Homo sapiens: one gene and its partners. The protein of the gene in region 1 binds, or shares a complex with, the protein of each later gene. Each region holds a gene or a part of one and is shown in the gene's direction. Other genes may lie near its edges. The genes, in order: MED25, MED7, MED26 and MED16.

The links.
Region 2: MED25 (region 1) and MED7 share a complex: the UniProt entries of both Homo sapiens proteins name them as parts of the mediator complex.
Region 3: MED25 (region 1) and MED26 share a complex: the UniProt entries of both Homo sapiens proteins name them as parts of the mediator complex.
Region 4: the proteins of MED25 (region 1) and MED16 are in contact, whole or in part, in a cryo-EM structure (PDB 7EMF), measured with the Homo sapiens proteins. Residues at the interface, in NP_112235.2 of Homo sapiens: Ala26 (codon at 4,896), Asn27 (codon at 4,899), Gly29 (codon at 4,905), Pro30 (codon at 4,908), Tyr31 (codon at 4,911), Val74 (codon at 5,690), Asp75 (codon at 5,693), Cys76 (codon at 5,696), Ala77 (codon at 5,699), Pro78 (codon at 5,702), Glu79 (codon at 5,705), Val82 (codon at 5,714), Cys84 (codon at 5,720), His85 (codon at 5,723), Pro87 (codon at 5,729), Lys102, Phe103, Met104, Gly105, Gly106, Gly107, Gly108, Glu109, Thr120, Gln123, Leu124, Asp127, Phe128, Tyr151, Leu152; in NP_005472.2 of Homo sapiens: Cys41 (codon at 7,210), Arg42 (codon at 7,213), Ser92, Ser94, His113, Arg161, Lys163, Phe171, Gly172, Gly173, Lys174, Pro195, Gly485, Tyr486, Ala516, Ala517, Gln520, Val521, Thr524, Arg525, Ile554, Ala555, Ser558, Lys561, Ser562, Leu563, Leu564, Arg565, Pro566, His567.

What each region holds. Positions count from the first base shown.
Region 1 is NC_000019.10:49,813,522-49,821,386, forward strand, and holds the start of MED25 (mediator of RNA polymerase II transcription subunit 25), read left to right. Parts: upstream 1-4,767; 5' UTR 4,768-4,820; coding exon 4,821-4,954; intron 4,955-5,049; coding exon 5,050-5,095; intron 5,096-5,650; coding exon 5,651-5,775; intron 5,776-7,865. UniProt on the Homo sapiens protein: Component of the Mediator complex, a coactivator involved in the regulated transcription of nearly all RNA polymerase II-dependent genes.
Region 2 is NC_000005.10:157,139,791-157,147,027, reverse strand, and holds the start of MED7 (mediator of RNA polymerase II transcription subunit 7), read left to right. Parts: upstream 1-4,162; 5' UTR 4,163-4,208; intron 4,209-4,252; exon of another isoform or gene 4,253-4,627; intron 4,628-7,237. UniProt on the Homo sapiens protein: Component of the Mediator complex, a coactivator involved in the regulated transcription of nearly all RNA polymerase II-dependent genes.
Region 3 is NC_000019.10:16,625,183-16,633,087, reverse strand, and holds the start of MED26 (mediator of RNA polymerase II transcription subunit 26), read left to right. Parts: upstream 1-4,883; 5' UTR 4,884-5,144; coding exon 5,145-5,216; intron 5,217-7,905. UniProt on the Homo sapiens protein: Component of the Mediator complex, a coactivator involved in the regulated transcription of nearly all RNA polymerase II-dependent genes.
Region 4 is NC_000019.10:890,144-898,220, reverse strand, and holds the start of MED16 (mediator of RNA polymerase II transcription subunit 16), read left to right. Parts: upstream 1-5,033; 5' UTR 5,034-5,135; intron 5,136-7,071; 5' UTR 7,072-7,089; coding exon 7,090-7,258; intron 7,259-7,976; coding exon 7,977-8,077. Other genes in the region: R3HDM4 (R3H domain-containing protein 4), read left to right, coding at 681-784. UniProt on the Homo sapiens protein: Component of the Mediator complex, a coactivator involved in the regulated transcription of nearly all RNA polymerase II-dependent genes.

The sequences.
Region 1 (7,865 bases):
AAAGATTGCGATGGTCCCAAAGCATTGCCTAGCAACCACATTCCCTGTAGGTTTCCAGTATATAGTAGTAAACAATGTGCCCTACTCAAAGATGGCGACCGTGGCGGGGCGTTGCCAAGCAACCACCATTCAGCCTGATATCCATTCCAAGGCTGTAAACAGCTGTGCCCTGCTCAAAGATGGCGGCACGTCGAAGTCCGAGCACCCTCCTTGGGGCGAAATCGAGAAAAACACCATCTCCCCTACAACCTTCGAGGGTGGTTGAGTCCAGCGATCGTTGCCTAGTAACCACTAAAAAAAAGGTTGTTTTTGTTATTAGAAAAAAGAAAACAAGGAAATCCTTTATTTTCCAGAATAATAAAAATAATATCATTTCTGTAATGAATTTATACATGATAGCATACCATGTAAAATGTGAAAAATCCCTTCCCCAATTTTTTTCCTAAAATACAGTTTAACGTAGACTATTCATACGTTTTCACAAAGATGATCAATATACTAACATTTCCACACTTTCTTTTTTGCCATGAAAAAGTATGTCTATTTCATCTTAATAATGTATTTTTATAATCTATTTTATGGATGTGACAAATTGATTTGACCAATTCTGTATTGATGTACATTAGGTTGTTGAACTCCTCCAGACTAGCCAACTAGTGCTGGGACAGCATTTTACTGACTTTTTAAAATGCCCTTATGAATATTTTTATTATTTTACACAGGCAGCATTTACTTGTAATGACAAAAGTATTTATGATTCATTTTTCCCTTCCTCTTCCTTCTTGCAGATCAGCCCATCTTTCTAGCATAATTTTTAATTTTCCTACTTCCTAAAGTACATCTTTTTCTCTTTTTTTTTTTTTTGGGAGAGGGGACAGGGTCTCGTTCTGTCGCCCAAGGTGGAGTGCAGTGGAACCATCTCGGCTAACTGCAACCTCCGCCTCCAGGATTCAAGCGATTCTCCTGCCTCAGCCTCCTGAGTAGCTGGGATTACAGGTGTGCCCCCACCACGTCCAGCTAATTTTTGTAGTTTTTGTGGAGACAGGGTGTCGCCATGTTGCCCAAGCTGGTCTCAAACTCTTTGGCTCAAATGATCCACCCACCTCAGCCTCTCAAAGTGCTGGGACTACAGGCAGGAGCCACCATGCCTGGCCTAGGTACCATTTTAATCTTCCTTCTTGCCTATTGATATTTTTTTTCCTTTCTCTGGATTACTTTTATCTTCCTTACAACTTTATTAAAATGTTAGTTACACAGGCATAAAAGAGGGGGCTGCTCTAGATGAAAAGAAACTTGAGACATAATGTCTAAATATGTGTGTGGTCTTTGTTTGGATCCTGATACAAATAAACCAACTGTAAAAACACATTTTGAGACAATTGGAACGTTTGATTACACACTTACTGTTGGATGATACTAAGAAGTTAATTTTGTTACAGGTAACAATGGCATACTAGTAATGTAAGAAAGTGTTCATAAAATTGGAAAGATGCCTGCCAAGCACACAGGAGTAAAATCATATGATTGTATGGATTTGAAGGCTTCAGCAGGCCAGGCGCGGCGGCTTACGCCTGTAATCCCAGCACTTTGGGAGGCCAAGGTGGGCGGGTCACCTGAGGTCTGGAGTTCGAGACCAGCCTGACCAACATGGAGAAACCCCGGCTCTACTAAAAATACAAAATTAGCTGGGCGTGGTGGCGCATGCCTGTAAACTCAGCTACTCGGGAGGCTGAGGCAGGATAATCGCTTGAACCCAGGAGGTGGAGGCTGCCGTGAGCCGAGACTGTGCCATTGCACTGCAGCCTGGGCAACAAGAACAAAACTCCATCTCAAAAAAAAAAAAAAAAAAAAAGCTTCAGCAAATGAGACTGTCTCAAAAAAAAAAGGGCTTCCGCAGGCTCACTGCCTATAATCCGGGCACTCTAGGAGGCCAAAACGGGTGGATCACCTGAGGTCAGGAGTTTGAGACCAGCCTGGCCAACATGGTAAAACCCTGTCTCTAACAAAAATACAAAAATTTGCCTGCGAGGTGGCACACACCTGTAGTCCCAGCTACTGGGGAGGCAGAGGCAGGAGAATCGGTGGAACCAGGGAGGCAGAGGCTGCAGCGAGCCGACACTGCGCCACTGCACTCCAGTCTGGGCGACAGAGCGAGATTTTGTCAAAAAAAAAATAATAAAATAAAAAAAAATAAAAATAAAAATAAAAGATAAAAGAAAAATAGAAACCCAATAAAAAATAATTTTAAATGATAAAGGTAAAAACCTTTATCATTAGGCTTTCTGTAAGTACTTTTCAATTGGTGATTATTATTATTATTATTACTTTTTTTTTTTTGAGACAGCGCCTCGCTCCGTCCCCCAGGCTGGAGTGCAGTGGCGCGATCTCTGTTCACTGCAAGCTCCGCCTTCCGGGTTCACGCCATTCTCCTGCCTCAGCCTCCGGAGTAGCTGGGACTACAGGCGCCCGCCACCACGCCCCGCTAATTTTTTTTTTTTTTTTTTTGGATTTTCAGTAGAGACGGGGTTTCACCGTGTTAGCAAGGATGGTCTCGATCTCCTGACCTCGTGATCTGCCCGCCTTGGCCTCCCAAAGTGCTGGGATTGCAAGCATGAGCCACTGCGCCCGGCCTGTTTTTTTTGTTTTTTTTGTTTTTTTTTTGAGACAGTCTCGCTCTGTCGCCCAGGCTGGAGTGCAGTGGCGTGATCTCGGCTCACTGCAACCTCTGCCTCCCGGGTTCAAGCGATTCTCCTTGCCTCAGCCTCTCGAGTTGCTGGGATTACAGGTGGGCACCACGACGCCCAGTGATACTGACCTCGTGATGCGCCCGCCTCTACCTCCCAAAGTGCTGGAATTACAGGCATGAGCCATCTCGCCCGGCCGAAGATTATGTTTTAAAATATTTACTGGCCATTCAAAATTTTGTGTGTGTGTTTGTGTGAAACTAGTCAGGTTTCTTTTTATTTATTTATTTTTATTTTTTTTGAGACGGAGTCTAACTCTGCCGCCCAGGCTGGAATGCAGTGGCACAATCTCAGTTGACTGCAACCTCCGCCTCCCGGGTTCAGGAGAATCTCCTGACTCAGCCTCCCAAGTAGCTGGGATTACAGACGCCCACCAGGACGGCTAATTTTTTTATTTTTAGTAGTTAGAAGGAGTTTCACCATGTTGGCCAGGCTGGTCTTGAACCCCTTACCTCGGGTGATCTGCCCGCCTTGGCCTCCCAAAGTGCTGGGATTACAAGCGTGAGCCACGGCGTCCGGCCCTGGTCAGGTTTCTTTCTATTAAAACAAATATAAAGTGGCAGGGCACGATGGCTAACACCTGGGATCGCTTTAGCCGAGGAGTTTGAGACACGCCAGAGCAACACAGTGAGACCCCATCTCTACAAAAAATTTAAAAATTAGCTGGAAGTGGTAGTGCGCGGCTGTGGTCCCAGCTGCTCCACAGGCTGAAGAGTGGCTCCAGTGCGAGTAGAGGCTGCCGTGAGCCAAGATTGGGCCACTGCACTTCAACCTGCACAACAGAAAGAGACCCTGCCTCAAAAAATAAAAATTAAAATTAAAAGATAATAGTAATGAAGTGTTTCTATTTTTCTATATTGTTATTCATCAGTAAGATTTATTTGCGTAGTACATTTCTGTCAACAAACACGCTAGAAAGATTTTCCCAGTTGGCCGTATATTTTTCAACTTGGTTTATACAGTCTTTTGGGAAAAATTAATGAAGACTACGTTTTCTAACTTTGCTGTAGTGCTAAGAAACTCCATGGCAGTCATTAAGATTTTTTCCCTTCAGATAGTTTTCGGGTTTCATTTGTTGCACTTACATTTTTAATCCACCTGGAATGTATTTACGTTCTAAGCCAGTTTCTGGCTCCTCTCCCAGAAAACAACGCTCAGGTGTTGCTTAGCAACCCGCACTTGGTTTGGTGTTCGGCTTCTTTTCGGGGGGGAAAACAACTGCCCTCCCTTCCAAGTTGAGGACGACCTTAAAGCGTCGCCTAGTAACCTCGTTTCCGCCGATGTGATTGGATCCTTCTCGCGTCCCTCCCCTAGTCCCCACGCCCGAAAGAACAGAACCAGAAACTTAATCTAACGGTTACAAAACAAGGGCAGCGGGCCCGGCGCGGTGGCTCACGCCTGTAATCTCAGCACTTTGGGAAGCCAAGGCGGGCGAATCACTTGAGGTCAGGAGTTCGAGAACAGCCTGGCCCACAGGGTGAAACTCTTTCTCTACTAAAAATACAAAAATTAGCGGGGCGTGGTTGCGGGCACCTGTAATCCCAGCTACTCGGGAGGCTGAGGCAGGAGAATCGCTTGAACCCGGGAAGCGGAGGTTGTAGTGAGCCGAGATCGCGCCACTGCACTCCAGCCTGGGCGACAGGGCGAGACTCCCGTTTCGAAAAAACAAACAAACAAAAAACAAAACACAAAAACGAAAACAAGGGCAGCGTACGCGTTGCATAGCAACCAGGTCTCCTGCCCCTCCCTTTGAGACAAGAGGCGGACCTGGACGCCCCGCTCAAAGATGGCGGCTGACTGAGCCGCTTTCAATTTATTTAGCTTTTGACAATAATTCCGTCTAACCCATCAGGCCCCTAGAAGGGCTAACTATGCCCTTTCTGAGTCTTCCACGCGGTGGGGGCGAAGGAGGATGGAGCTAGAACGAAGCCTCAGCGCGTGCCCCGCACAAACATGGCAGCATTCCCAGCAGCCCTAAACCGCCCGACGCGAGCGCGCGCGCGGCGCAGGCGCATTTCTGCTCATTCCGCGGCGTCGGCTGCGGCTGCAGTGGTGGTGGCGGGTACCGCACGGGGTATGGTCCCCGGGTCCGAGGGCCCGGCCCGCGCCGGGAGCGTGGTGGCCGACGTGGTGTTTGTGATTGAGGGTACGGCCAACCTGGGACCCTACTTCGAGGGGCTCCGCAAGCACTACCTGCTCCCGGCCATCGAGTGAGTGCTGTTTCCGCGACTCTAACCCCGCCCTCCCACTTCAGTTTCGCACAGTTTCTTGCCTGACTCCGACCTTTCACTTCCTACCCTCACAGGTATTTTAATGGTGGTCCTCCTGCTGAGACGGACTTCGGGGGAGACGTGAGTCTAGGGACTCCTGGGCCTGAGGGAGGAGGGGCCGGGGGCCTGGACTCCTGGGTCTGAGGGAGGGAGAAAGGGCTGGGCCTGGACTCCTGAGTTTGAGGGAGGAGGGGCTGGGGGTCTGGACTCCTTGTTCTGAGGGAGGAGGGCCTGGGGGCCTGGACTCCTGGGTCTGAGGGTGGAGGCGCTGGGGCCCGGATTCCTGGGTCCGAGGGAGGAGGGAGCTAGGGGCCCAGATCCCTGGGTCTGAGGGAGGAAGGGCTGGGCGTCTGGACTGCTGGGTCTGAGAAAGGAGGAGCTGAGGCCTGGATTCCTGGGTCTGAGGGAGGAGGTGCTGGGGCCTGGGCTCCTGGGTCTGAGGGAGGAGGGGCCGGGGGCCTGGATTCCTGGGTCTGAGGGAGAAGGGGCTGGGGCCGAGATTGCTGGGTCTGAGGAAGGAGGAAGCTGAGGAGTTCCTGGTTCTGGAGGAACGGGAAGCTGGGAGCCCTGATTCCTTCTCTAAGGGAAAAGGGAATTGAGGTCCCAGATTAAAAGTTTTCTGTCCTCCCCTCCCAGTATGGGGGGACCCAGTACAGCCTCGTGGTGTTCAACACAGTGGACTGCGCTCCCGAGTCCTACGTACAATGTCACGCTCCCACCAGCAGCGCCTATGAGTTTGTCACCTGGCTCGATGGCATTAAGTGAGCTTTCCCCCACTTGGGGTGGGTTGCTGGTCCCTGTGAGGGGCCGTGAATGAGTGATGGCTTGGGGTGGTTGGTGTCCCCGTGAGAGGCTGTGAATAAGTGATGGCTTGGGGTGGTTGGTGTCCCCGTGAGGGGCTGTGAATAAGTAATGGCTTGGGGTGGTTGGGGTCCCTGCGAGGGGCCGTGAATGAGCGATGGCTTGGGTTTGAGCTGCAGGAAACATCTCATACATTAAGGGATTGAAAGGACTTTGAGGGTGATTGTGTTTTTGTCAGAAGTCACTTTTGTGGTGGCTTCTGTGTGCTCAGCAATGTTGCCATCAGTTTAGAAGTAGGAAAAACCTTCCCATTCAGGGAGGCCTGGCTGAGCTCCAGCAGCCACCTTGTACTCCCTGTGTGATTGTCCCCTTTCTGTCCTCTCTTTTTCCGTCTACCCCTGTCCTCCTTTTCCAGATGGGTACATTGTAGCCTCAGTGCAGGGGGATGGGTCAGAGCCAGGATAGATCCCTCTGTGGCTTGGGTCAGAATTTTTTTTTTTTTTTTTGAAACAGTGTCTTGCTCTGTCTCCCAGGCTTGTAGTGCAGTGGCACAGTCGTGGCTCACTGCAACCTGTACCTCCTGGGTTGAAGCGATTCTTCTGCCTCAGCCTCCCAAGTAGCTGGGATTACAGGCACACGCCACTATGCCCAGCTAATTTTTTTTTTTTTTTTTGTATTTTTAGTAGAGACAGTTTCACTGTGTTGGCCAGGCTGGTCTCAAACTCCTGACCTCATGTGATCTGCCTGCCTCAGCCTCCCAAAGTGCTGGGATTATAGGGGTGAGCCACTGTTGCGGGATTCAGGACGACAGGAGAGAGCCCTCGGGTTAAAGCAGGAGAATCTTTCATTGAGTGCACTCAGGCCCAAGCCGACTCACGTCCAAAGACGGCCCAGAACAAAGGTAGCACTTGACTTTTATACACACTTCACAAAAGGGGGTGGGCTAGCTTGAAGCAAGCTTACAGTGGCGTGACAGCAGGGATACAGAGGCAGAACAAAAACAGTTAATCAAATTGTTGTAACAGGTTTATAACTCAGGATTGCACATAACCGTTGCTATGCAACCCAGATGTCCCTTATCTAGGTTAGCCTAGGCACGGGCTTATCCCATAACCTTCACTGTGGTGCCCAGGCAGCTCAGGCTTCTCATGACCTTCGCTGTACTTCTTAGATAAAACAGAATACTTGAAGTCATGAGTTACAGAGAACAGGAATCTATAAACTCATTCCATAAAACAAAGGAAAATTTGTTTTTTCTTCTCTCTATGTTGAGGGAGTGCTGGGAGAGTCTCCAAGAGCACTTTAGATAGTATTATCAAGACTTTTCCTGGGTCTGGGCTGTGCCCATTGCTGCCTCTCAGACAAGTCAGCCTAATACATAGAACTTATTTCTCTTTTTAATTTTTTTTCTTTAATTTCCTGCCTCACCACCACGCCTGGCGCTGGATCGGATTTTGATAGTTGACATTGTAGAGTCTGGAGTCAGGCAGACGGGTTAAATCCTGGCTCTTCCAGCACAGAACTAACTCTCAGACCCAGGAGTCTGTCCCCTCTGTGCCTAGTATCTCACTTGTGAAGTGGGGATGTGGATAGTACTTGTATTAGTATTTCATTGTATTACTTATTCTTAGCTGTATAATAGATTACCACCAAATAATGGCTGCATACTGCAAACATTTATTATCTAACGCAGTTTCTGTGAGTCAAGGACACAAGAGTGGCTTGGCTGGATGGTTGGGCTGAGGGTCTCACAAGGCAATAGTCAGGAGGTCGGCAGGATTGCAGCCATCCAGGGGTTTGACTGGTGGTGGGGAATCCGTTCCCAAGGTGGCGAGTCTGTGGCTGTTGGCCACAAGACCTCTCCACAGGGCTGGTTGACTGTCTAACATGGCAACTGGCATTCCTCAGATTGAGGGACCCAATAGAGAGAGCAAAGAGGAAGCCCCAGGCCTCTCTTGTTTTTGAGGAAGGGTCTCACTCTGTCACGCAGGCTGGAGTGCAGTGGCTCAGTCACGGCTCACTGCAGCCTCGACCTCCTGGGCTCAAGCTC
Region 2 (7,237 bases), on another chromosome or scaffold:
AAGACATATCTTATCAAGGACTTATATCTTGTGTGTATTTGTGTGTGTGCACCCTTACAATTCAATAGTAAGAAAACATGCCAATTTAAAAAATGGGCAAAAATTTTGAACAGACAGTTCGCCAAAGAAAAGATATACATGGCCAGTAAACACATGAAAGATACCCAATACTAAGGAAATGCAAATTAAAATCATTATACAGATATTAGAATAGCAAAAAGTAAAAATTAAAAGGATAACACCAATTTGCAGATTGAGGGCAACTATACCTCCGATAGATTGCTGAGAAATGAAAAATAAGCAGCCTCTTTAGAAAACTGCTTGGTAGTTTCTCATATAGTTAAACATATAATTATTATAATGTCCAGCAATTTTGTCACTATGTTGTTATCCAAAAGAAATGAAAACATATGTCCATACAATTGACTTGCATGGGAATGTTTATAGTATCTTTGTTAAGAATCACCTCAAACTGAAATAACCCAAATGTCTATTAACCAGTGAATGGATACATGAATTACAGTATATTCATACAATGGAATATTCCTTATCTGTAAAAAGGAACAAAGTATTATACATTGAACAACATTGATGGACTTCAAAAGTATTATGCTAAGTGAAAGGAACCAGACACCAAAAACTACATACTTTCTAATTTCATTTATATGACATTCTGCAAAAGGTAAAACTATATGAACAGGGATCAGATCAGTGGTTACTAGAGGATGGGGATAAAGGGAAGGAATTGAAATAAAAAAAAGTTGTTTGGGGTGATGAAATATTCTACATCTTAATCCGGGTGGTAGTGGTTTTATGTCAGTATGTATTTATCAAAACTCTTATAACTATTCACCTAGAGTTAATTTTATTCTATGTAAAGTATCCCTCAATAAATCTACATTTTAAAAAATCAATAGGGTGGAAACTAAAAATTTCTGCTTGTAATTTAGGTTCAAATGACAGCGATGTTTTTTATAATGTGCCAAGATCCTAAGGGAGGCAAGAAGTCGGTTACCGTGTGTCTTTGCCCATTTCATCTCCCCTGCTCTTTCTTTCTTTGCTCACTAGCTATGGAGCACACAGGCTGCCTTCCTCTCTCTAATTCAGAAAGATCATGGCAGCCCCACGCTCTTTGCATTTGCTGTCTCCCAGATCTCTGCAGAATTCACTCCTTCATATTTTGTTTCCAAAGTTAACCTTCTGTGAGAGGCTACCCTGACCACCCTGTGTAAAGTAGCTATTCCCCAACCCACGTCACTATCACATTAATCTGTATTATACTTTCCCCCATAGCCCTTACCACTATTCGAAGTTTTTACTTGTTTGTATACTTCTTGTCTGTGTCTCTCTAGAACACCTTCTAGAAAGAACACTTTTTTCAAAGGCCCCACTGGCTTTTGTCTGTCTTTTTAGCCTTCTAGACCAGTGCCGGCACAACAGACACACAATATACAGATTTATTCAACGAGCATATTCCTTGTTAAGCTGTAGTAGGCATCTTTAAGTAATAAGCTTTCCATTGAGATTTTGCCAATATAGTCATATAATTAAATGTTTAACACACATCATATTGTCACTAGCCCTTCTCATGATATGGACTTCATATCCATTATTCATTTGAAGTTTATTGGAAAGAACACTAGATTGATAGTCAAGAGTCCAAGATTCTAGCCTTGATTCTGCTACTAACTGTTAAGACACTGCCCCTTTGGGCCCAGTAATTCTATTTCTAGAAATTTATTTCAAAGAACAAAATTGGACACATGCACAAACATATATGTACTGGGATCTCATCATCCTGTGTAGTTACACTGGATCAAATTTGGAGAAAAATAATTTAACACAATGAGGATCTGGCTAAAGAGACTGTGGTATAACCACCAAAGCCACGCTATGAATTTATTTGAAAGTGATGATTGTATTCATTTTGTTTCTTATTCAATAAACACTTATTGAGTATTTGCCAATTTCAGGCACCGTTGTATGTAGGTTCAAACACAACAGCAGTAAATGAAACAAAGGTCCCATGCTCATAAACCTGATATTTTTGATGGATAAGAAAGGCAATAAAATACATAAATATACTATGTAAGATGATTTCAGATGATGAGAGGTTCTATGAAAAAAAGATAATACATAGTAAGGGTTTCAGGGGCATCTCCCAAGAGAAAGATTAGGGATGCGCTATTTTGCATAGAGTAGTGTAACCCCAGAAGAACTCTTTGAAGTCACATTTGACCAGAAACCTGAATGAATTGAGGAAATGAAGCCGGGCGCGGTGGCTCACGCCTATAATCCCAGCACTTTGGGAGGCCGAGGCGGGCGGATCACGAGGTCAGGAGATTCAGACCATCCTGGCTAACACGGTGAAACCCCGTCTCTACTAAAAATACAAAAAAATTAGCTGGGCGTGATGGCGTGTGCCTCTAGTCCCAGCTGCTGGGGAGGCTGAGGCAGGAGAATGGCGTGAACCTGGGAGGTGGAGCTTGCAGTGAGCCGAGATTGGGCCACTGCACTCCAGCCTGGGTGACAGAGCAAGACTTCGTCTCAAAAAAAAAAAAAAAAAAAAAAAAAAAAAAAAGGAAAGAAGGAAATGAGACGTGTCAATATCTGTGCAAAGAGTTCCAGGCAAATGCATTGGCCCCAAGGCCGGGATGTACTTGGCAATTTTGTAGGGCCTGTGATATAGGCCAGGGGAAGGATGTCAGATTTTATTCTAAAAGTCATAGAAAGCCTTGGAGGATTTTGAATAGAGGAGTGATAAGACCGGTCTTATATTTTAAGAAGGTGTGGTAAATAGACTAAGGGAGGACAAAAAATCAAAGAAGTCCAGGTGAGAGATAATGGTGGCATGGCATAGGACCATAGCAGTGGGAACGGTGGTCAGTCATATTTGGAACTTTATTTACTTATTTTTAAATAGATCTAATGCAAAAGGCTGGTATGGTAGTTTCGGTGGGGTATGTGAGAAAGGAGAAAAAGGTGATTCCTTCGATTGAACATTTGCAATTGAGTAAAGTGCAACTGGGGAAAGATGTCTGTCACCACTGGATATGAGGGTCTGAAGTGCAGAGGAAACGGTGTTCCAGGGCCTGCATGTAATCATCCAGCTGATATCTGACTGAGAAGTGGTTGGAGAACTGAGTCCTGGGGCAATCCATTAATCAAATGTGCCAAATGCTGCTGACAGATGGAGTAAAATGAGGACTGGGAACGACCATTGGAAGTCACTGGTGCAGGATACATTGGGGTCAGCGGTGAGGAGAAAAGCTGGATTGGGTTATGCTCAACGTAGATGGATTTCTTCAGGAAATAAATTGATACGTGCGAGGGATTTAAAATGGGGGAGTCCGGAAGTGGTGGTTCACGCCTACAATCCCAGCACTTTGGGTGGCCGAGGCGGGCGGATCACTTCATATCAAGAGCTCGAGATGAGCCTCGCCAACACGGTGAAACCCTGTCTCTACCAAAAATACAAAAAAAAGAAAAAAAAATAGGTGAAACCCCAACTATTCGGGAGGCTGAGGCACGAGAATCGCTTGAATCCCGGAGACTGAAGTTGCAGCGAGCCGAAATCGCGCCACTGCAGTCCAGCCTGGGCGAAAGAGAAAGACTCCGTCTCAAAGAAAAAAACAACAAAAAAACCCTGCATGTCTATATTTTCGAATTTGTATGTAAGACGTCTTAATTGTATGCGTTAAATTAAAAAAGGACAAAAGGAATGGAACTACCAGCAGCGACTAAGTCAGTAAAAGAGTGGTAATGGGGAAGGGGGTGGAATATACGCAGGCGCAATAGCAAGCGTTTCTTTTGGAGGTTATTTTCGTGTCATAAATTTCTAAATTCACGTTAAGTCTTACAAGAGCATGTTAAACATTAAAACATAAGATTGTTTCTGGTCAATAAGGGGTCTATAAAAAATAAAGCAATAAGGTGTCTTGTTCAATTTTATGCCTTAATTCAAAAAGAAACGAAGAAACGGAACCCTCAGCTACGACTTTTAAAAGTCAGTAACGGGTGGATGGGAGGAGTCAAACATACGTAGGCGCAACAGCGAGGGATCGGTCTGAGGCGGAGCTAGAATTTCGTTAAAGGACAGCTCTTACAGCCAATCAAGGACAGAGTCGGTGGCTTCTTCCCGGAGGAGACCGGAAGTTGGTTTCGGCTGCAGAGGGGAAGGCGGCTACCAGTGTAAAGCCAGAGCTGAGGTAAGTGGGCGGCAACGGTTTGGGGCCGCCGCCTGTGTGCGTTTTTTTCTTCCGGACCCCGCAGCTTCCTCTGTGCTGGGCTGGGAACTGGGGAGGCATGGCTGAGTTCGGCCTCCAAAGGCGGTCTTTCGTCTTTCTCTCCCGAGTCTCTCCGAGAGTGCGGTCTCTCCGAGAGCGCGGAGGCCTCGGGGTGGACAGCCTGGAGGAGGGGGCTCTAAGCGTGGCAGTCTCGGGGCTTCCTCCGTGTTGGGACGCCGAGCCGGAGTGGAGGTTGGGAGACCTGGCGTCTAGTCCCCGCGCCGCTGTTTTTCTAAGCTGTGTGGCCTTGGGCGAGTCATTTGCCCTCTCCGGCTCTTTGTAACATGAGAGTAGCCCTCCCTGCCCTTCCTTCTTCTGGGAGCAGTTATGAAACAGCTGAGGTATGGGGGCAGGCGAGGGCGGTAGATCCCAAGCCTAATCGTCAGGTCCATCTGGAGAGGTTTTAAAAGCGACATTCTAGGGCCCATTCACAGTAGACAGAATGAATCAAATCTCTGGGGCTGGGACCCTGGAATGTCTGTCGTCTTCTGGTGAAGCTCCTTCTCCCCCAGTAGAACAAACACTAGATGTTGGATCTTGAGTTAAGAACCAGCTCTGATGCTTGGCTCTGCTTTTATTAAAAATAAGACCTCCATCACCTTTGAAAAGTTCCATCTAGAGAGACAGTAGAGAAAGAAATATAATTTTTGTGATATGCCAGTCCTTATTGTACAGTTAGATGCTTCTCGGCTTAGGGATATAAGAGAGCTTGCCCTTTGGAGCTAAAGGGACCTGGGATAAGAATTCCTGTTGTGCCATTTATTAACCTTTTGATCTGGGGCAACACTTCCCCTCATTGAGACTTCGGATCCTCACTTCTAAAATGAAATTGATAATAGAACTTAATTCGTGGGACCGTGTGGTGGCTCACGCCTGTAATCCCAGCACTTTGGGAGGCCGAGGTGGGCGGATCACTTGAGGTCAGGAGTTCCAGACCAGCCTGGCCAACATGGTGAAAACCTGTCTTTACCGAGAAATACAAAAATTAGCTGGGCGTGGTGGTGCGCACCTGTAGTCCCCAGCTACTCAGGAGGCTCAGGCAGGAGAATCCCTTGAACCCGGGAGGCAGAGGTTGCAGTGAGCCCTGATGGTACCACTGCACTCCAGCCTGGGAGACAGATTGAGCCCTTGTCTCAAAAAACAAAACTAACAACAAAAACCCCAAAAACCTTAATTCATAGAATTGTTAATGAAGATTATGTTACAGAGGCCATAAAAAATGGTACCTGTCATGTAGTTGGCCTTAGGAAAATGGCAGCCGCAATACAGGAATGCACATCGTGTAGGAAAGTACAGAGCAGCACTCCTCACCTAAAAAGGTTTGAGTGGGATGAAACGTGAGCTGTCAAAAATTGTATTTTCTGCCGGGCACGGTGGCTCACGCCTGTAATCCCAGAACTTTGGGAGGTCGAGGCAGGTGGAACACGAGGTCAGGAGATCGAGACCATCCTGGCTAACACGATGAAATCTCGTCTCTACTGAAAATAGAAAACATTAGCCGGGCGTCGTGGCGGGCGCCTGTAGTCCTAGCTACTCAGGCGGCTGAGGCAGGAGAATGGCGTGAACCCGGGAGTCCGAGCTTGCAGTGAGCCGAGATCGTGCCACTGCACTCCAACCTGGGTGACAGAGCGAGACACTGTCTCAGGGAAAAAAAAAATGTATTTTGAAGTACCAGATCACTGTTAATTCTTTGATTTTGGTAATTGTGCTTTGGGTAGAAGAAAACATTCTTGTCACGAGAAAACACACTGAAGTATTCAGGGGTAAAGGAATGAAAAACCAATAAAGCAAATGAAGGAAAATGTTAACATTTGGAGAATCTGAGTGAAGAATATGAAGTGTTTTTTGTGTATTCATGCACTTTTTCTGTAATCTGAATTTATGTTAAAAGTTTTAAAATGTCTGGGTGTGGTGGCTCACGCCTGTAATCCCAGCACTTTGGGAGGCCAAGGCAGGAGGATTGCTTGAGCTCAGGAGTTTGAAACAAGCCTGAGTAACATGGCAAAACTCTGTCTCTACAAAATATACAAAAATTAGCCGGGCTTGGTGACATGCCTGTAGTCCCAGCTGCTTGGGAGGTTGAGGTGGGAGGATCGCTTGAGCCTAGGAGGGCGAGGCTGCATCATCCTATGCACCACTGTGGCATAGTGGAAACTCAGGGCTGCGCCACAGCTGCCCTCAGTACCTCACGAATTCTAAGTATAATATTGCTTCTAGTAGGATACTTGCCCCACCCGATGTTAGAGTGTGTTATATCTTGAAACTCTGATAACACCAATCTAAAGGAGCACTTAAGGATCTTCTCATTGGATGGTATACCTAGGCTTAAGGTAGAATAAGTAGAGGTTATTATGGCCATAGATACTGGGTTTGAACCTGGGGTTTGACATTTCTGTGATAGTTGTAGAGAAGTTAATGTGTCCATACAGGCCAGGCGTGGTGGCTCACGCCTGTAATCCCAGCACTTTGGGAGGCCAAGGTGGGCGGATCACCTGAGATGGGGAGTAAAGAGACCAACCTGGCCAACATGGCAAAATCCCGTCTCTACTAAAAATACAAAAATTAGCCAGACATGGTGCACGCCTGTAATCCCATCTACTTAGGAGGCTGAGGCAGGAGAATTGCTTGAGCCCAGGAGGCGGAGGTTGCAGTGAGCTGAGATCTGAGATTGCACCACTGCACTCTAGCCTGGACATCAGAGCAAGACTCCATCTCAAAAAACAAACAAAAGTTAATGTGTCCATATAAAATTGCATAGTATACTGTGACAAAAAGGGTATGGAACTGAATCATCATTTCATTCAGGAACTTTGGATAATAATGTGTTTAGGATTTAGCAATGTTAATTTTGTCAGAGTGTTTATGAGAGATACAAGTAAGTGTTTGCTATTGGAAATAAATCTATAACATAAAACAAAAGTGATTGTGATATGAGATTGGGAGACAGCCTG
Region 3 (7,905 bases), about 33 Mb from region 1:
TGTGGCGCCTTCTAATTCATAACCTTCCCATTGTGGGGAACTAATCACAGTTTATTTACGTACTCCCCTATTGCTAGGCACTTACATTGCTTCCAATCTTTCACTCTTACAAATAGTGCTTCAGTGAACTTCCTTGTACATACACATTTGTCTACATCTGATTGCCTCCTTCAGATAAACTTTTAGAAGTTGTGAATTTCAGTACGCTCATATCCACAGGGTCAGAGGGTATGAGCTTATTGAAATGCTCCCAGTTGGCCGGGCATGGTGGCTCACGCCTGTAATCCCAGCACTTTGGGAGGCTGAGGCGGGTGGATCACCTGAAGTCAGGAGTTCCAGAGCAGCCTGACCAACATGACGAAACCGCATCTCTACTAAAAATACAAAAATTAGCTGGGCATGGTGGCATGCAACTGTAATTCCAGCTACTCAGGAGGCTGAGGCACGAGAATCACTTGAACCCAAGAGGTAGAGGTGAGCCCAGATGGCACCATTTCACTCCAGCCTGGGCAACAAAGCGAGACTCTGCCTCAAAAAAAAAAAAAAAAAAAATGTTCACAGTTAATGACTTTTTTCATTCGTTGGTGTCCCAGCCGTGTTGTGTTTGTACAGTGCAATTAAAGTATTGTATTCATGAATTCCCACCCCCCAACCAGGTTCCGGGGCTTGCGTTCAGAACTGGAACCTTTCTGTATCCCCATCCCTACTTGAAGATGGGATTAAAAAATTGAGGTCTTCTACCTATCTTTGACATGTCAAGGTTAGTCAAAACCAATTTAAATTGGTTTCACTTTTAGAGTAAACAAGACTTAGTGCAAAGCCAAGCAGAACTATGAAACTCATCTCTAGGTACTTCTGAGATAACTGATAGGGTTGAATGAGTTCATATATGAGAAAGGGTTTTAAAAATTTCTGCCAGCGGCCGGGTGTGGTGGCTCATGCCTGTAATCCCAGCACTTTGGGAGGCCAAGGCAGGCGGATCATGAAGTCAGGAGTTTGAGACCATCCTGGCCAACATGGTGAAACCCTGTCTCTACTAAAAATACAAAAATTAGCTGGGTGTGGTGGCACCCGCCTGTAGTCCCAGCTACTCGGGAGGCTGAGGCAGGAGAATCGCTTGAACCTGAAAGGCGGAGATTGCAGTGAGCCAAGATCACGCCACTGCACTCCAGACTGGCAACAGAGTGAGACTCTCTCGAAAAAAAAAAAAAAAAAATTCCACCCGCCTGTTAAAGCAAACATAGGGGTCAAAGGAGGGTGGTTGTTTTTGTCACACTGGCTTTTTCTGTTAATCCCTGGAGCCCTCACATCCCTTATTAGGGTAAGTTTAGTAACCCTGTGCTTTAAATGGCCTGTCTCTCAGGGGCTTGCTTCTGACATGTCTGATGAGCGCATTCCTGCTGTTGCTCCTGGCTATTACAAGGTGTCGCTGTGGAAGACTATTCCTGTACAGCTGTGTGAACCTGCCTCGTCACGGCTTCCTCTGCAGTGCTCTTGAATATCCCGGTTCCTGCTTAGGCCACAGCAGTGAGTCCAGGGAGAAGCATCCTTCTACTCCCTCACTGTCCAGGTTGGCTGAAGATGCTCTGCACTTGACCTCCTGACACTAACTTCCTTGCCTTTTCCCATGGCAAGAGCAAGTCATGGACTCTGAACTACTTCCTCTCCCTTTTTTCTATTTATTTTATTTTATTTTATATTTGTGATGGAGTCTCGCTCTGTCACCCAGGCTGGAGTGTGGTGGTGTGATCTTGGCTCACTGCAACCTCTGCCTCCCAGGTTCATGCAATTCTCCTGCCTCTACCTCCCAAGTAGCTGGGAATACAGGTGCCCACCACCATGCCCGGCTAATTTTTGTATTCTTAGTAGAGGTGGGGTTTCACCATGTTGGCCAGGCTGGTCTCTTAACTCCTTACCTCAAATGATCCACCCACCTCGGCCTCCCAAAGTGCTGGGATTATAGATGTGAGCCACTGCACCCAGCCCTTCCTCTCCCTTTCTCTTTGGGGTTCCCTTCACAAACAGGTGAGGCAGCTTTTTCAAGGGCATTCCAAGCACAAAAGACCTTGTTGTACCTAAATACTATAAGGGACCTGTCATTGAGGACGAACCATCACAGCAAGAGGAATTATCTCGTGCCGCATCTTCGCATAACTGACAGGATCCCTGGCAAGGATGTCTCAATGCAGAAAGTTGGCTAAGTGAACTGCAGTATCTACCCTGGACCTAAAAGAACTTGCTAATGTTTTCAAGACTACAATTCAGAGGCTGTCTGATTTAATCTTTGCATTTACAAAAACACCCTTTTACGTACATTAAATGTGGAATAAAACTAAATATCCGTGTGTGTGTTGTGTATCCTGGTGTATATAGTATTATATTTTATGAAGTATTTCATTCATTCCAGAAATAGCTCTCCAGACCCATGGTGTACCAGATCTGTAGAAACTGAAATGCATTCATATGTCTGGGGGTGTGTGTAACGCTACCGTGTATTTGATGAAACTTTTCATTGACTTACTCCACAGATACTATTTTTCTATCTACTGGGGATACCAAAAAGAGCCAGTGCCCTTGAGGAACCAAGTCATGTCAGTGCTTCTTAGTTTTTAAAAAGTGGGTAAGTTGAGTACTTTCCAGATGTTTGTTTATTTTTCAAGACAGTCTTGCTCTGTCACCCAGGTTGGAGTACAGTGGCGTGATCTCAGCTCACTGCAGCCTCTGCCTTCTGGGTTCAAACAATTCTCGTGCCTCAGCCTTCTGAGTAGCTGGGATTACAGGTGTGTGCCACCATGCCCGGCTAATTTTTGTTTTTTCAGTAGAGAAGGGGTTTCACTATTTTGGCCACGCAGGTCTCGAACTCCTGACCGCAAGTGATCTGCCCACCTCGGCTTCCCAAAGTGCTGGGATTACAGGCATGAGCTACCAGGCATGAGCCACCGTGGCTGGCCCCACATTTTGTTTGAGACAGAGTCTGTTGCCCAGGCTGGAGTGCAGTGGTGTGATCTTGGCTCACTGCAACCTCCGCCTCCCGGGTTCAAGCAATTCTTCTGCCTCAGCCCCCTCTAGTAGCCAGGATTACAAGTGCGCGCCAGCATGCCCGGCTAATTTTTGTATTTTTAGTAGAGATGGGGTTTCACCATGTTGGCCAGGCTAGTCTCGAACTCCTGAGCTCAAGTGATCGCCCACCTCCGCCTGCTGAAGTGCTGGGATTACAGGCTTGAGCCACCACGTCCGGCCCAAATGTTTCTTAAAATAACCTGACCCATGCAAAATAAATTGCCTCCTATGTAATACTTTATTAAAAAAAAAAAAAGATACTGTACATCCGAGTTAGAAATTAAGAGAGAGGCAAGACCAGAATATGCCTGAGGAAGGCTTTGCTTATTTTGCTTATCAGAAATGAGAGAATTATCTCCGAATGGGCCAGTTTCCAACTTGGACCATGTACACCATGTACACAATGCACCGCATTCTGGGAGGGGCGAGGTTGGGAGCAGTAAATGACAAGTGTTTTGCCCGTGTTTCTTTTCTCCTCCAAGTGTGATGTAAAACTTTTCACATGTGCAGAAGCACGCAACCATAGCCACGTGCAGAAGCAGCCGTTTTTGCAAATGAAAATATTTCCCAGAAGCACAACAAATACAAGACTAACAGGTGTCGGGCAGCTCCAAGGCACACATGTGGTTCTCATCAGCTGTCTTCCTCCTGTTTTAAATCTAGGTCTTCCTGTAACAGTGGGAAAAAAAAGATTTCTCCCGAGGCCGCCGAGCTTGCCTTTCCATCCCGTCTCACAAGAGCATTTCCAACAGAGCTCCCAGAGAGAGGGGAGCAATTACCAAGGCAATAAACAGGGTGGAGGGAGGAGGGGCGCCCTTAAACTTGACATCTGCGGTTCTGGGCTTAACCCCGAAGTCTAGGTGACCTTGGGCCTCCGTTTCCTCCTCTGTGACGTGTTTGGTTAAGAGAATGAGCATCTCAGTTTTACAGAATCTCAAGGCAGAGGCGGGTAGAAGGGTCTTTCAATCACGGGGTTCTCTGCCGGTGGGGGGGCGGGGGGACTGTGCCCCCACAAGGGACGGCGGCAATGACTGCAGATTGGGGGAGGGGGCGCTTCGGAGGCCAGAGATGCCGCTCAACTTCCGACAGATCGGGGGACCCGCCCCGAAGACAGAGCGATCCCGCCCAAATGCCAGTGGTGCCGAGGTGGAGAAGCCGCCGCGTAGACGCAGATTTGCAACCTCCGGCTTTCCCAGCTACGGCGGGCGGCTTCTGCCAGAGGCGCTTTGCCGCCTCACGTTTTCGCGATCGGGGTCGCGCGTGGCGGTGCAGACCCCCGCCCTGCCACCACACCCATTCCCACACCCTCTGAGGGGCGGGGGGGCCGCGGCGACACCCCCGGACTCCGATGACCCTTCTGCGCGCAGAATCACAACGTGGACGTCTGGTTCCCTCGCCCTCACAAAAAACTCGGCAGCTGCTCAGCCTGCGACTCCCGTCCCCCAGTCACGCGCCGGGAAGGCTCTCCCAGAGGAAGGATTTTCCCGCCGCCCTCCCCGCCCCGAGGTAGCCGCTGCGAGCGTCCGGGTTCAAGGACTCTTTGCGCGCGCGCTTCCGTCAGAAAGCCCCGCCCCGTGACCTGGACGGGGGCCGTTGCCCCGCCCAACCTCCTCCCAACGGCTGCCTAGGCCGGGCGGCTGGGCGGGGCGTCACGGGCGGACGAGTGCGCCTGCGCGCGCTTGCGCGGAGGCGCGGGGCGTGGCACACGGGCAGCCCCGCCCAGGCCTGGCGTCTCCGCCCGCCCCATCTCCCAACCTCCTCAGCGTGGCGCCGACGCTGCGTGCGGCGCGGACTACCCAGAGTACTCCGCGCGGGGGCAGCTCACTGGAGTTTGGTTCTCGAGGCGGCGGCAGCGAGCGGCGGCGGCTCCGGCGGCTCCTCCTCCTCCTTTGGTGGCGGCGGCGGCCCGGGACCGAGACCCGGCCCCGGCTCCCCTCTCCGCCACCCCGCGCGCCCCCAACCCCCCGGCGCCGCGGGGAACATGCGGCTCCGGCTCCCGGAGGCCGGCGAGTGAGTGACCCCCGTCCCCCGCCTCAGCCCGCCCGCCCGCTGGCCCGGCCGCAACCCCCCGCCTCGCCCAGGCAATGACAGCGGCTCCGGCGTCTCCGCAGCAGATCAGGGACCGGCTGCTGCAGGCCATCGACCCCCAGAGCAACGTAAGTACCCGCCGCGCGAGCTGGGACGGAGGCCGCATGGGCCCGGGACCCTCCCCCTCTCCTGTACCCCTCGCCCACCGGGCTTCGGGGGACCCGTCTGGCGCCCACCTCCCCTCGAGGGCCGCTGCCATCCCTGCCTCTCGCTTCTCGGGCCCGGGCCGGGGGCAGGTCGGGCAGCCCGGCAGCGCTCGGTACGTGAGGCCGAGGCTTCCGTGCGGCCTGGGCGGAGGAAGCAGACGGGGGAGCTGAGGCTAGAGTTTTTCCTCCCTTTCTGCTCCAGCTCTACGACCCTCACTGCTCTGGACGAAGCTTCTCTGCCTCGCCCTCCCTCCGGGACCCGAGACCCCCGGGAAGCCCTCCCGGAGCGGGAAGGGGAGGGAGAAGGGCTGTGAAGCAACTGGTGTCCGGGGTATGACTCGGGGAACCTATGTCTCCCATGTCTTGGCCTCCTGGGTGATCAGGGAAGTCCTTCTTCCCCCTCCTCTCGGCTGGCAGCACCTTCCTGGCTTCGGAGAGAACCCCCAGTCTGTTTTGCCCCTGGCCGGGTACCTAGGGTACGTGGAGAGTCTGTCTCCCTTCTGTGACTAGACACGCCTTTGCCAAAACCCTCTTGGGGTCGCTGCCGACGATAGATGATCTCGGGGAGGGTGGGATCCTTCCTGTTGCCTTTCTGGGCCTCAGTACCCATTGCGTCTCTGACCAAGCCAGAGCTCCATTTTTTAGGTAGTGAATTAAAGAGGACTTTTCTCTCCCGTTTACCCAAGAGCTCTGTTTCAGTAGGCTCTTTCCCTCACCTGGGGGTCTCAGCCTGGTGGTTTTTGACCCAGACTGTCGGGGTTAACTCCAGAGTGTCGCTTCCTCGGGTGCCCCTTTGCTGAGGCTACTGTTTGCGGAGGGACCGCCCCCTCCCCTTCCGTGTGTGTGTGTGTGTTGTTGCGGGGGTGGGGGGGTGGGGGGGAAGACTGATCTATTCTCATATTTTCTCCAAGAGTTTCTTGGCAGTAGGGGTCATTCTTCCCGCGGCAGGAGCAGGGCGGTAGGAAGATGCAGTAGCATCCAGGTATGAGGGGAGGCCCTGCTTCCCAGGAAGTGGCCATTGAGATCACTTTTTAATGTGCTGTGAATGGAAGAAAAATATCATCTTTGGCTTGGCCAGGTAACTCAGGTTTCTCTCACCGTAGGGGTTTTTGCTTTCATTTTTACATGAGCTTGGCTGATTACTCTTAGCAATATGCTTCACTCTGATGATGTTTTGGGAATAATTCACATTGGCTTATACAATTTTTGGTTAAGACTGAAGGGTTATGAGTTTTTTCGAAGGCTCTGGTTGCTGTGATATAAGTACTTCTCTTATCCCTGGTATTCAGGTCCCATTAACATTGACTTGATGGTAATTGTCTTTAACAAATGTTATATTGTACATTTTTGTTATGACTTTGGGGGTGGAGTGGGCACAAGCTATATAAAACCTTCTAGAATGTCCTTTTTGCAGTAACTGGTGTCACTGCAATTTTAAGACTGAAATATTAGAGGATAAAACTAGTGACATGAAAAAAATAGCCTTGGTGACTTGTGCATCTTTTGTGGAGCCGGAAGGTAATTTTTTTAATTTCACGCACTCGCTTTCCTTCTGGAGAGTCTGAGAGGTTGCTGAGATATTAGCACTGATCCTTAATGCCACCTCAGAGAGCTTTGGGATCAGGCGGCACTTTGACAGGCGATCACAGTGTTGTAGATTAGGTCACTCCAGTGACCTCACAGTTTCCAGTATTGTATAGGGTTCTAATCTAAAGGGTTCCTTGAGGCAGAAGAAAGGAGGATGGAACAAATCTTAGTTTTGTGTGTCTTAGCACATGCAGAAATGCTATATAGGTCCCTGGTTATGTTAGCTGGCATGGAATTTGCATTTCATACCGCTTATTTTCAGGGACTTTAGTGATGATCTTGGGCAGAGTCCTACTAACATGGGGTGGATGGATTTGGGAAGTTATCTTCTTGACTATGAACAATGAGGAAAGTGCCTCCTTTGTGATTGACCCTCTGAGCGCTGTTATGGGCCATTTGACAGGACCGTTTGCTTTGAGCAAACACCATGCAGAAACACAGAGCCGCGGTGGACAGGATTGCTGGCGGAGGTGATGGTGAGAGCCGGGCATGTCAGTGCGTCTGCAGTTTCTCTTGGATCAATGTGGGCTCAGGTGAGAGCAGGTGGCTCCAGCACAGGTGCTGCCGGCGTGCCGCTCTCTCCTCTCTGCCCTGCCCAATGATGAACTCCACTACTGGATATTTAGTTGACACATATTTAAGATGCTCATGAAAAAAAAAAAAACGGGGACAGTGTTGAAGAGCCAACACTAAAATTAAACCTCTTCTGAGAGAAGCGGCAGAGAATTGTGTCATGTAATGCTTACCTTTATGGGCATGCAATTATGGTTAACAAACTTAGCTATTGCTTGCAAAATCGGTGTCAGGAACTGACCTAATATCCACAAGTATCTGGAAAGTTAGGGAAGTGACGAAGTCGTGTTTACCAACCATCTCCTTGACAAAGGAATTCTTAGGAGGAAAGTAGTTTCTGTGCTCTCACTTTTAGCCCCTGGAGTATGCATTTGAATTCCTATAGCAGCAGGCTCAGAGTTAATAATTTCTGCCAATTCAGTAATAAAGTAAATCCTCTACTCTCCTTTTG
Region 4 (8,077 bases), about 49 Mb from region 1:
TAGTAGAGACAGGGTTTCACTGTGTTAGCCAGGATGGTCTCAACCTGACCTCGTGATCCGCTTGCCTCAGCCTCCCAAAGTGCTGGCATTACAGGCTTAAGCCACCGCGCCCAGCCCTAGAGACAGGGTTTCACCATGTTGGTCAGGCTGGTCTCGACCTCCTGACCTCAGATGATCCTCCTGCCTTGGCCTCCCAGAGTGCTGGGATTACAGGCATGAGCCACTGCGCCTGGCCAGGTCATTCATTTTTCTGCAGTGAGGGGGAGATGGGGAAGGGGAGGCCGGTGGGAGCTGGACCACTCAGGACCTGGGTGCCTCAGAGCCACCTCTGCAGGGCAGGGAGCCTGAGGGGAGGCCGGACACTCCGCCAGGCAGGCGTGTGAGTGGCCATGCGGCCTCAGGCCCAGTGCGTTTCAGGGTCCCCATCCGCACAGTGGAATGAGTGCCAGCGGGGAGTGAGATGGGCCCGAGGAGAGTGCTCCTGTAGGGAGCCTTAGGTATTCTTGTGAGCCAGGCTCCCGGACCTGCGGGCTTAGGGCCAGCCAGGCCGCAGTGACCAGCACACACCAGCTGGCGGTGACCTCCCTGGGAAGAAGCGAGGGTGGTGCAGGTCCGAGGCACCTCTACCTGCCGCGGCTCCCAAATTCCTCCCGTTCTTGCCCCGCTGGTCCCGTCTGCAGGTGCTGACCTGGAGGGGAAGCGGCAGATGAAGGTCAGTAATCGGCACCTGGATTTCCTGCCGCCGGGGCTGCTCCTGTCCGCCTACCTGGAGCAGCACAGCTGATGGCGGCCCCGCGGAGACCCCGCTGCCACCTCGCCCAGCCATCAAGCCCTCCGATACCTTCGGCTAAAATATCTTTCATATTTTTAGAATTTGTCCTCGGAAACCTTTTTCGCTTGGGGTGGTCTCTCTCACTCTGCCCCCTCCTCACGCAGCTCTTGGCAGTCAACAGACGCTGGCGGCTGGGGCTGCCCATGCCATCCCAGCTCCAAGCTTCCCACTCCGGGACTTGTGTTTGGGTGGGGAGACCTGACCTGGGCATGTTCCTGTTTCTTCATCGTTGAGCTTTTCTGGCCCGGTCTGAAGCTCAAGTGAGGAGGGGGAGGCTGGGTTTTTATCACTTTTAATGAATTTGGTGTGATTTGTTGTAGATTTTTAAATTTCCCTTTTGGAGAGAAAAACCAAAAAAACTCGCCCCACTGGTAAAACATGGGTCTTGGTCCCAGCCCCTGCTCAGCCCCTCCCAGTTTTTAGCTTGAATGAGGGTGGGGTCTCTGGGACCCTGCCCCTCATGCCAGAAGCATCTTGTGTTGTATATGTGTGCGCGCGTGTGCCCTGAGACCCAGGACAGAAGCCACGGTCCTAAGAGCCGGTTTTATCCTCGTCATTCTGCGTGTCCTCCCCCACGCCACCTGTGTCGGGGCTCAGGGTCTCCTGCTTTATATGAGCCCCCTTCCTTTCCTCCCCTCCTTTATGCTGGGGGTCCAGGACTTCCAGCCAGAAGCCTCTGCCCTTGCACTACCTTGTCTGTCACCCCATCCCGTGTCCCCTCGTCCCCCAGCCTGACTCCTGCCTGATAGCTCCTGTGTCCCCATGCTGGTCCTCCTGGCCCAGGCTGCAGGAGCCAGGCTGGGGGGCCTCCGCACCCCCTTGCTGCGTGTGGGTAATTGTGTTTTGGGGGAAAGTGGGGAATTTAATAAATTTCTGGTGCTCTGGCCTCGGGCTATGTGTGTTTTTCTTCGGGGCAGGGCCGGGGGCTTAGTAGGTCCTGGCCACCAAGGGCTGCAGGTGCCCCCCTGGCTCCTCTGCCCTTGGTTGCCTGGATTCAAACCCTGGCTCTGCCACATGCCTGCCGTGTGACCTTGGGTGAGGAGCTTGTAGGAGTGCCTTGGGGCCCCTGTAGACCTTGAGTGAGTGGCTTGTACGAGTGCCTTGGGGCCCCTGTAATGGAGGGTCTCACACAGGGGGCTTGAAACGACAGAAGGCCAGTGCAGTAGCTCATGCCTGTGATCCCAGCACCTTGGGAGGCCAAGGCAGGAGGATCGCTTGAGCCCAGGAGTTTGAAACCAACCAGGGCAACATAGCAAGACCTTGTCTCTACAAAACATGAGAGAAATTAGCAGGGTTGGCTGGGCATGGTGGCTGCTCACACCTGTAATCCCAGCACTTTGGGGATGCCAAAGCGGGTGGATCACAAGGTCAGGAGTTCAAGACCAGCCTGACCAACATGGAGAAACCCCATCTCTACTAAAAATACAAAATTAACCGAGTGTGGTGGTGCATGCCTGTAATGCCAGCTACTCAGGAGGCTGAGGCAGGAGAATTGCTTGAACCCAGGTGGTAGAGGCTGCAGTGAGCTGAGATCGCACCTTTGCACTCCAGCCTGGGCAACAAGAGCAAAACTCTGTCACACACACAAAAATTAGCAGGGTGTGGTGTGCGCCTGTAGTCCCAGCTACTTGGGAGGCTGAGGTGGGAGGATCACTTGAGCCTGCAGTGAGCTGAGACCGTGCCACTGCACTTCAGCCTGGGTATGGAGGAAGACCCTAGGTCAAAGAGAAGCAAAAGGGAAATCTATCCTCTCACAATGCTGGAGGTAGAAGAATGAGGTCATGGTGTCTGCAGGGCAGTGCTCCCTCCAGCGTCTCTAGGGGAGGAGCCTTCCTGCCTTTCCCGGTTTCTGGGGACTTCGTGTGTCCATGGCTTGTGGCCACATTGCTGTGGTCTCATCTCCAAGTGGCCGTTTTCCCTGTGTGTTATGTCTTGTCTTGACATCGTCCTCTCCTCACGTGTCTGTGCCCAAATATCCATCTCTATGATGCCCGTCATTAGGTTAGGCCCATGCTAATCACCTCCTTTTAACCTGATTACCTCTGCAAAGACCCTGTTTCTAAATAAGGTCACATTCTGAGGTAGTGGGAGTTAGGAATTCAACCTCTCTTTTTTTTTTTTTTTTTTTTTTAGACAGGGTCTGGCTCTGTTGCCCTGGCTGGAGTGCAGAGGTACAATCCCAGCTCACTGCAGCCTTGACCTCCCAGACTGAAGTGATCCTCCCACTTTTGCCTCCTGAGTAACTGGGCCTACAGGTGTGCATCACCCCACCCAGCTATTTTATTTATTTATTTATTTATTTTGAGACAGAGTCTTGCTCTGTCCCCCAGGCTGGAGTGCAGTGGCGCGATCTCAGCTCACTGCAACCTCCACCTCTTGGGTTCAAGTGATTCTCCTGCCTCAACCTCTAGAGTAGCTAGGACTACAGGCATGTGTCACCATGCCCAGCTAATATTTTTGTATTTTTAGTAGAGATGTGGTTTCAACATGTTGGCCAGGCTAGTCTCGAACTCCTGTTCTCAGGTGATCTGCGTGCCTCAGCCTCCCAAAGTTCAGGGATTACAGGCCTGAACCACCTTGCCCAGCGCCCCTCCCTCCCCAACCCTGCTAATTTTTAATTTTTTTTTGTAGAGACGGGGTCTGGCTATGTTTCCCAGGCTGGTCTCAAACTCAAGCTGTCCTCAGACCTTGGCCTCCCAAAGTACTGGGATTACAGGTGTGTGCCACCACACCCGGGCCGCTAAGAACGTTAAATCCCTACCTGCTGCCTGGGAATGGGGATTTTCTGTAAGGTCACTGCGTGGCCCTCTTGGAGAACTGAACCCTGATCCAGAAAAAACACTCTGATATTTGGGCCATTGTTAACCTGTAATTTTAGAACAGTTTTATATTTGCAGAATTCTTGCAAAAATCATGCAGTGAGGCCGCGGTGGCTCACGCCTATAATCCCAGCACTTTGGGAGGCCGGGGTGGAAGGAGGGCTTGAGGCCTGGAGTTTGAAATCAGCCTGGGCAACATAGTGAGACCCCATCGCTATTAAAATTTTGAAAAAACAGGCTGGGCGCGGTGGCTCACGCCTGTAATCCCAGCACTTTGGGAGGCTGAGGCAGGCAGATCACCAGGTCAAGAGACTGAGACCATCCTGGCCAACATGGTGAAACTCCGTCTCTACTAAAAATACAAGAATTTGTTGGGCATGGTGGTGCGCGCCTGTAGTCCCAGCTACTCGGGAGGCTGAGGCAGGAGAATCGCTTGAGCCTGGAAGGCGGAGGTTGCAGTGAGCTGAGATCGCGCTACTGCACTCCAGCCTGGGCCACAGAGCGAGACCCTGTCTCAAAAAAAATAAAAATAAAAATAGAAGAGCACCACATCCATTGCATTAAACTGGCTTTTGGAGGAGGAGGTGGGAATAGGGTTGGAAGTAGGAATACTCAACGGGGTCGGTGACTTCGCTTACAGTTTCCCCACTCTTGGACATTAGAAAATGGAAGAAAGGCCGGGCGCGGTGGCTCACACCTGTAATCCCAGTACTCTGGGAGGCCGAGGCGGGCGGATCAGGAGGTCAGTAGATAGAGACCACCCTGGCCAACATGGCGAAACCCCGTCTCTACCAAAATACAAAAATTAGCCGGGCGTGGTGGCGCATGTTTATAATCCCAGCTACTCGGGAGGCTGAGGCAGGAGAATCGCTTCAACCCGGGAGGCGGAGGTTGCAACAAGCTAAGATCGCGCCATTGCATTCCAGCCTGGGCAACAGAGCAAGATTCCGTTTCTGGGAGGGAAAATGGAAAAAAAAAAAAAAATATGGAACGCTTCACGAATTTGCGTGTCATCCTTGCGCAGGGGCCATGCTAATCTTCTCTGTATCGTTCCAATTTTAGTATATGTGCTGCCGAAGCGAGCACGAATATTGAGTTCCACCACCAGCTATTTAAAGCCCCTGGAACAAATGTCTGTACACATAGGCCGACTTCTCTTAAATGACCTAGAGATTTAACCTCTATTTATATTAGCCCAATGTGTAATGCAACTAACGTAGTTATTGACTGGAGTTGAGAAAGTGCTCGTTGTTCTACCAAATATAGCTACGGTGGCTGCTGGGAATTACTGGAAATGGTCGTATGCAAATAGCCCCGGAGGCGGGGCAGAGCCTGAGCCGCACCGCCCTCCCAGAAGTCTTTGGGAGGCGGCCCCACGCCTCAGGCGACTGGTTGTTACCGAGGAAGATGGCGGCGCCAGACCCGAGGCGCTAGGGAAGATCGCACCGCGGACGCCCGCTGAGCTTGGCGCACGGGCCGACCAGGTGAGTGCGGGGCTGCGGGGGCCCGGCGAGGGCGGACGGACCCCTGACCGTGTCCACGGACCCGAGGGAACGCGGCGCAGCCGTGGCGGGGCCTGCGGGGTCGGGGGCGTGGCCGGGAGCAAAGGCTGCTGGGTAGGCGGCCTGGGGCGCGGGGCGCGGGGCGCGGGGCGCGGGGCGCGGGGCGCGGGGCGCGGGGCGCGGGGCTCGGGGCTCAGGGTTTGCGGCGGAAACCTGGGGGAGGCCTGAGGCCCGCGGGGCTGGGTTCGGGGCGGGGCCTAAGGAGAGTTTGGGGCGAGGCTGAAGGCGCTTGGTGGGACTTCGGGGGCGGGGCCTGGAGTGGGTTTGGGGTCGCCGGGGTGGAGCCTGGGGACTGGGGGGCTGTAGAGGCAGGGCCTGGAGACTGCGGGGTTATCGGTGCGGGGCCTGGAGAGGGAATAGGGTCCCTAGGGTGGAGACTGGGGACTGCGGAGTTATAGGGGTCTGGAGAGGGTAGGGGGTCCCTGGGATGGACCCTGGAGATTGGGGGTTATAGGGGCGGGGCCTGAAGAGGCTATGGGGTCCCTGGGATGAAGCCTCGTATTTGGGGGCAATAGGGGAAGGGCCTGGAGAGTACGTGGGGTCCCCGGGGTGGAGTCTGGGGACTGGGGAGTTTTAGGGGTTGGGCCTGGAGAGCTAAGGGCGTTGGAGGCTGGACCTGGAGAGTACATGGGACCCCTACGGTGAAGCCTGAGAATTTAGGGTGAGGCCGTGGGCTCAAGGGGTGAAATGAAGTGTGGGAAGCAAAGGGGGTCAGGGGTGGGGCTGAAAGACTTTTAGAGGCTTGTGGCGGAGCCTTGGGGGTCTGGGGCAGGCCCTGAAGAAGTAGGGAGCCGGGGTTAGGGTTTGAGGAGAACCTGGTTGCGGGTGATTCCAGGCTCCCTGGGCTTTTGCCTTTGCGAAGCGAAACAGCCCGTCTGGATGCCAGGCGCTTAGAAAGCCTCGAGGAGGTGCCCCCTCTGTTCCCTGTGACACTCAGCCCCCGCCTCGGCCACAGGTGTTCCCCAACACACTCAGCCCCGCCTCGGCCACAGGTGTTCCCCGTCACACTCAGCCCCGCCTCGGCCACAGGTGTTCCCCGTCACACTCAGCCCCCGGCTCGGCCACAGGTGTTCCCCATCACACTCAGCCCCGCCTCGGCCACAGGTGTTCCCCGTCACACTCAGCCCCCGCCTCGGCCACAGGTGTTCCCCGTCACACTCAGCCCCGCCTCGGCCACAGGTGTTCCCCGTCACACTCAGCCCCGCCTCGGCCACAGGTGTTCCCCGTCACACTCAGCCCCCGCCTCGGCCACAGGTGTTCCCTGTCAGTCAGCCCCGCCTCGGCCACAGGTGTTCCCCGTCACACTCAGCCCCGCCTCGGCCACAGGTGTTCCCCGTCACACTCAGCCCCCGCCTCGGCCACAGGTGTTCCCTGTCACTCAGCCCCGCCTCGGCCACAGGTGTTCCCTGTCACTCAGCCCCGCCTCGGCTACAGGGAGCCGCCCCACCGCTTGCCTGTCTGCGGGCTCTTCCTTCGGGAGAGAGCTAGTGTCCACTTGCTGCCCCCATCATCACTCACCTGGGCCAGCGCAGACCCTCCGCTGCGTCTCCCGGCTGTGCCCTTGGCCCCCATGGTCTGTTCCCTAGACAGCCAGAGGGGTCCTGGTGAAACCCAAATAGGTCCCAGCCCTCCCGGGCTCCCACCTTACTGAGAGTAGAAGCCCACAGGCCCAGGACTGGCCCTGACCTCTCCATGTTCCCCCTCGGCCCCAGCCCCAGGCTCTGTCTGGCCTCCGGGCCTTTGCATCGGCTGTTCCCTCTACCACGGGCCTCCATTGTTTTCCCACTTCTGGCCTGGCACTCCACATGCCCTGGGTGCTCAGCCAACATAGACGTCCCACCACACCTCCCTCCCGCAGGAGCTGGTGACTGCCCTCATGTGTGATTTGCGGCGGCCAGCGGCAGGTGGGATGATGGACTTGGCCTACGTCTGTGAGTGGGAGAAATGGTCCAAGAGCACCCACTGCCCATCGGTGCCCCTGGCCTGCGCCTGGTCCTGCCGAAATCTCATCGCCTTCACCATGGACCTGCGCAGCGATGACCAGGGTGCGTCCCCCTCCCACCTGCTTCCCCTCCCGGCCGCATGGTGTCCCGCCCTGTTCCCCAGGTGCCCGGCCCACTGCCTTGAAGGGACTCGGTCTCTCAGGCCACCTCTCACTCACCCTGGCCCTCCTCTGTAACTTGTGTGAGAGCCTCAGCCTCCTGGGGGTACAGAGGGTGGATTCAGTGCCCCCCAAACCTGGTGCCAGGAGACATGAGATCGCCCCGTGTGCGGGATCGAATCGGGCTGGAGCGTTGGTTGACGGAGGCTTGTTGGAGACACGTGCCCCAGTTTTCTAGACGGTGTGTGTCACTGGTTTTTGAAAGGTGCGTGGTGGCTGTGCCCGTCTTCTCTCCATTGTTTGAGTAATAGGCACTCATAATACGTGGTCATTAGAGAAAACTAGAAAACCACAGAAAATTGGAATCAAATCGGGGTGCAAAAAAGCCACCTATTATCTGCTGTGGAGAGGCTCCCACTGTTCACATTTCGGAGTCATTTTCTTCTAATCTGGTTTTAAAGACACAGTTGTGGCGCCTCACAGGCCTGCTCTGTTCCTGCGGGGGGACAGCCTGTTCCCTGAGCTGTCGACTCGGCTGACAGCAGTTCTGTGACCTTCCTGGGGTGGGACACACACCGGCTTACCTGGAGCCTGCCTGGAGTCATCGTCATCGTCTGCAGGCTGTGGTGCCAGGCCGTGCTGACCATGCCCCGTCCCCACAGACCTGACCCGCATGATCCACATCCTGGACACGGAGCACCCCTGGGACCTGCACTCGATCCCCTCAGAGCACCACGAGGCCATCACCTGCCTGGAGTGGGAC